Regions from separate parts of the Homo sapiens genome. Here region 1 is linked to region 2. Evidence: fine-mapped expression QTL. A gene starts in region 2. The other region holds a variant in brackets. All regions are shown on one strand. Distances are between the middles of the regions.

The links. PIP is the estimated chance that this variant, and not a neighbour inherited with it, causes the effect.
Region 1: its variant is the best candidate, but not a certain one, in a credible set for the expression of ARMC8 in prefrontal cortex (CommonMind, PIP 0.73).

What each region holds. Positions count from the first base shown.
Region 1 is chr3:138,305,354-138,308,266 of GRCh38, reverse strand. It overlaps NME9 (NME/NM23 family member 9), which reads left to right. Exons shown (of 11, transcript NM_001349018.2): 7 at 1,787-1,869; 8 at 2,171-2,263. Among named protein-coding and RNA genes, the nearest start is that of NME9, 23 kb to the left of the region's middle. The variant T/C (reference allele first, on the strand shown) is at 1,713.
Region 2 is chr3:138,185,736-138,188,648 of GRCh38, reverse strand. It overlaps ARMC8 (armadillo repeat containing 8), which reads right to left and starts at 1,348. Exons shown (of 22, transcript NM_001363941.2): 1 at 1,050-1,348. The coding sequence starts at 1,094.

The DNA of each region.
Region 1 (2,913 bases), 120 kb before region 2:
AATAAGAATTGTTTGAGTTGGATTCTAACAACGGAGAAGGCACAGTTTAGGACAGCAAAACTTCAAGGGTGAAGAGAAAATCAGTGATTGTGATTCTGCAGGAGACATTTGTTGCTCCCCTGTTGCATCATCTCCTCTTTCTTCCCTCCTCCATGATTTCCTCCCAAATCAAGTCTCTCCCACGTAGAAAACCATCTAAGATACCGCCCTTACCCTTCCTTAGCCTTCCTCTTATTCACAGCCAAGCTTCCTTTGTCCACACTCTAGGCCACCTTCACTTTCCATTCATGCCCCGACCTGCAGCAATCTGGCCTCTGCGCTCACTACTCCCTGAAATGGTGCTCATTGGTGGCACCAACAGGTAGTTACCAGTTCATATCTTATGGGATTTTTCTGCAGAATGGGATGATGTTCACAATGTCTTCCTTCTCAAAACCTTCTCTTCCGGTTTCTGAGATGTCACAACTTTTCTTGTTTTCCTTCTATGTCTCTGGCCTCTCCTCAGTTTCTCCTTCATTGGCTTCTTTTCTTGTGCTGCCCTTTTAACCTGGAGCACCCCAGGCCCCTGCTTTGGTCTCTTTTCTTCTTCCTCTACCTCTAGGTGATCTCACTAATCAATTTATAATGGAATTTATTGTAAAACTCTCTTAAAATCTAAATATTCATAACACGTTAGAAATAGTAATGTCAGAAAGAAATAACAGATTTGTTGCTTGAAATGATTTATACATTTGCAGTACATGTTTTTGAGATTTTTCAGAGTAGAAGCCCTCGTTAAATGTAGATATTGTCTTGTTTCATTTCAACACAACCAATGTAAAAGCTGAGAAACAAAATAGGTGATGGGAGAATGATGATTCTGTGGAGAGTGTAGATAACTCATCCAAGACAAGTTTATATAATATAAGCAGGAGGACAATGGAGATGGGCTCATGGACTAGACACAGACCTCCCTACAGCTCCTGTGGGACTAAGCAGTGGACTCTGATCCTGTGGCACCTCCCTCATTGTCATAGCTAATTGGACTGGTGGATGCTTATTCAAGGGCAGTCAATCAGCAGACTGGCCAGTGAGCTAGGGCTGGTACCTTGGCTAAAACCAATGAGTGGGGCAATCTGGCTTCTCTCAGGAGAACTTGAACGGAGACAGACTACTGAAACTGCAATCTGGTAGTATGTGCTGGAGCTGAGAAGTCATGGAACATCATGCAGACTCAGGGCCTGGAGGAGCCATTTTTAGCCACATGGCAGGAAAGGGAAAAAGTATCAGAGGCACAGGAGCCAGTAGAGTGAAAGGAGAGCACGTGGCAGACAGCAGGTAGAGTGCTGGGAATCATGAGAGGGTGAGGGCAGCCAGGCCTGTATTGCCCATGCTCCAGGCCCCCCTCTCACTTTCTCCTATACCTCCTCTTCTTCCCACTCCCCAGGCCAACTCAATTCAGTTGTTTCTGGATTTCTGGTCCCAAGCAGTCTTTGAGCAATCCCTTCTCCCATGTTCCTCCTCTGCCACCTGCCCAGGTTCATTGAGCCAGTCTCTGAGTCTCTGTTCCTTGCAGCAAGATGGAGGTTGAGGTCTGGCCTCAGGTCTGGAGTCAGACTGGTGCATCCACCAGAGTCCAGGTTTGCAGGGGCAAAACTAAGAGGCCAGGGAAGGGAACTCTGAGAGCCCAAGCCTGTGCCTGGCACTTGGTGCAATGGAGCCTTGTGTAGAGG[T/C]TGCATTGTTTTTTGTGGATGGCCTCTCAGGAGCCTCAAACATCAGCATCTGACAGCACCATTTTTTGGCTTAGTTTCATCAGAGAGGACCTGTACCTTGGCCATCATTAAACCAGATGCAGTGGCCCATGGAAAGACTGATGAGATTATCATGAAGGTAAGAGAGACAACACTTACCATGCACCACTGTCCTTGTGTCCTCTTTTGTGGATAAACAGGGATGGGGCACTGGGCAGTGATATCTTAGTGCAGAAAGATGAATTCTAAGGGGTTGTAGCTCAAGTTCCATTCAAGTAAATGAAAATGTTAAATCTGATTGGGACAGATAATGTGGGGATCAGTGTCTCCACAGCCTTTAATGTTGCCTGTCTTTATTTTTTACCTTTCAACTAAATTAATTAATCAATGTGAATTTGGGCTTGATTTACCCTTTTAGAATATTTATATATATTCTACAGATTCAGGAAGCTGGGTTTGAAATTCTAACAAATGAAGAGAGAACCATGACAGAGGCAGAAGTGCGACTTTTCTACCAACACAAAGCTGGAGAGGTCAGCTCATCTACTTCCACAAGTTCAACACACTGTCGTTTCTCTTCCTCCAACATTATGCTTATAGATTGATATCAGTTTGTGACAGAAGAAATTATGAAGAACCAAAATAGGAACAGCAAGTGGGTCATGAATTTATTCTCAGAATGACAATAGGCTGTATCAGGTAAAGTTTTTTGGTTGCAAAGAAAAGGTTTTCTCTCTAAGAAATGAATTAAGGAATTTATTAGAAGGAAAGTCCATAACTCACAGAATTGAAGGGAGAGTTTAATGAGAAGGGCTTGGAGACAAAAGGAAGCTAGGGATCTCGAAGCAAAGCCTCGAGCATATCACTTTAGATACTGCCATTGGATAACTCAGATCTAACTACCTTCCATTTGCTTCTGCTGATAACCCACCTGCTTGGGAGTCTTCTTGGCTTAGCTTGGGTCAGAACCCTTCCTCTCAGGTCAGGGGTGTGTGTGTGTGTTGGGGAATAGGCATCCCATGGTTGTCAGTCAAACTTGGACCAAATGAAATGGGTAAGGGCTGTTCCCCAAAGGAAAACCAGAGTACTGTTACTTGAAGAGGGAGGAAGGGTTGTGAGGCATTGCATGGAAAAGAAAAAAAGTACCAACTATATTTCAGCCCTTGGTTATCCAGCATCACAC
Region 2 (2,913 bases):
CATTTATAATCCAACTACCCTCTCAGTATCAGACTGGCTTCCACAAGTCTAAAAGATGGTCAATCAGTATTTGCCTGCTTGTTTCCAACAATAGCAAATGAACCATTGGTAAACTGACCATTCTCAGAGTCGGACAGCTCGAATTTGTTGCAAAATCCTTCGAAGTTATCTCCCAGTAACTTTCATTCCTGGTCCTGGTTCAAGAGCAACATAGTGAAAGGTGAAAGTCGTCTTTTTCTTTAAAAAAACTTTTTTTAAAAAAAAAAAAAACAGGTTTTACTTCCTGGCATGTCAATACGTTCCCTTCTTTCAACAATGGGGAAATAAATCTCACCCCCTTTTCCCCCCTTCAATGTTTGACTCCCCTTAAAGAAAAACGGAATACCAGGCACAGGGAACATAGAGTTCCTCTGACTCAGAGCCGCGACCTCTGAGCAGAGCGGAGGAAAGGGGCTTAAAAAACCACACACACTAGGAAGAGTTGCAGCTGATACGAATCACCATTGCCAAAAAGCAAACTGCTTCAGCCGGTGCCCAGGTGCTGGGACGCGATAGAAGCCGCACAGACTTGGCCTGGCAGCTCTGAGGAAATGGGGGCCAAGGAGCCTGCACCTCTTCTTGCCAAAGCCCGGGAGAGCTGAGTGGGCGCTCGTTCTCAGGCCGGCTGCAAGCCCGGCGCTTCACAAGGCAGAGCGTTCGGCCCCCGGGAAGCGGCATCGCTAAAAGGAAGGCTCAGTGAAACGCTTGGCAAAGTCCAAGCCGCGCCGCCCAGCCAGTTGTCTATAAGCCCAGCCACCCCGCCTGCCAGACGCCATCCTGGGAACCCGCACCGGCGGGAGCTCCCGGAGTTGGAAACGTCTTTGGCTCGGCCGCGGTCCCCTCTGCCCGTCTATCCCGCCTCTCCACCCTCGCTCACTCCCTGGCCCGAGACTGAGCCGGGGTCCACCCCAGGGGGTGGTGCCCAGGAGGCACACCACGCTTGGGGGAATGGTGGAGACCGGGATGAGGCTTCCTGGAGGGCGGGCGGGCGGCCGCGGCGGGTCACTCACCGAAAGGACGCTCATGCGGATTGGGGTCTCCAACAAGCACGCCATCTTGAGCCTTCCCACCCGGCTGCTGCAGGCGCCGGCGCGGGGGCCGGCACTTTCGACAGCCAACTATTGGCCAACGCTAGGCACCGCTCCCTAAAGGCAGCCAGATAGACGAGAACTGGCCACGCTCTGGACACCGCTCAAGTACCGGAAAGGCCCGCAGAAAGAAGGGCAAAAGGGAATGGCGTCAGGGGCTGTCCTACGAATCGTTCTCTCAGAAACAGCAGCTACTCTGAGCCTGGGTTAGAGGTGGAAGCGGGCAGCGGTTTCCGCATGCGCAAAGAAGATCTGCCGGCCCCACCTGCCGCTCGCGGTGGGCGGGGCCCCAGAGGCGGAGTCTCGCCCTGACGCTACGAGTTTTACGGACTGATAAATTGCAGTTTATGGATTCCAGTATTCATATTTGGAAAAAGTAGTACGTGGAGCCACATACATAGTTTGAAGTTCACTTTCATATTCATTCTCTCTCTCTGCACCAAACTCCCGGCGTCGTTATCTCCATTTTATAGGTGGGGAAATTGCGATCCCAGAACCTTTGCCAACCGTAAGAGTGATTGTTTCACGATCCGATACAGATACGTGACTTGCCTTAGCGTTGTGTGCCGGCCCCGTTTATTCTGGTGTAGTGTTAAGAATAGCCAGAATGCTTGGGTTTCTTCCTAGCTACTTGATTTATCAGCTGCTTTACCCTGGGCAAGTTATCTAACCTTCTGTTTGAGTTTCCTCATCTATAAAATAAAGGTTAATGAGGATAGAGGAGTCAACAAACGTGAAGCTCTCAGAAAAAACCTAGAACATAGAAAGCGTTATACAATATGTGTTAACATTTCTCCAGCTTCTGAGTTAAGTGGGGAAAATGGGGGCAAATATCTAAATATTTCGCACTAAAACACTCTCATAACCGAAGCTAAATAAAAGTATGCTTTCAATTATACTTGATTAATTCAGCTGTCCTACTACTTTGTGTGTGTGTGTGTGTGTGTGTGCAACACTGCCCTTGACTTGGTTGGATAAGTTTCACCTTCGTACTGCTTGCAACCAGTAAGGTTTTCACAGTATGGTTGCAATTGGCCTGTTAACATTACTTGTATTCCTTCCATTTCTATAGCCACACCCTAATTCAGGCTCTTGTAACCTCTCCCCTGGACTACAGCAATAGCCTTCCAACTGGTCTTGTAGCTGGTAGCCTCTCCCGCACTCTGCTCCTCACTGTTTTCCTGTCTTCCTCCTGTACTTGGTTTCCAAATTTAGTGTAGCATTTACCACCCCTGCTTATGGGTCTGTGTTCCTTAACAAACTGTTGAATTCCTGGAAGGCAGGAATTTTATTTTAGGTAGTCCTTCTGCTATAATACTATTTCTGAAACTTGGGTAATCTGTACACCACCTACACAATCTTTGCCAATCTGCACCTAGGTATTATTATTCATTCAATATTTTTATTTAAAGCCAATTTCAACTCATTAAAAATTTTTGGCTTTATCCTAAACCATAATACTCTGTGAAATCAAGTTTGTTGTGCTCCTTATTTTTATTCTAGTACACATTAACTACAAAAAGTTTAAATGTCCATCCATGGACCACCTAAAATCACATCATGTACTGCATACTGCAATGGGGCAGAACATAACCCTAATACATAGTATATAGAGTCATTATAACTGTATTTGATCCACACTCCATCCATTAGCTCAAGCAATACATCCTCCAGGAATTGTCTCCCCCAGGCATGGGTTAGATACCCTTTCCCCCATGCCTTCATACTTCACTTTAATTGTAGGGTGGTTTTGTTGTTGTTAATTGTTTCCGTGTTTGTCTCACTA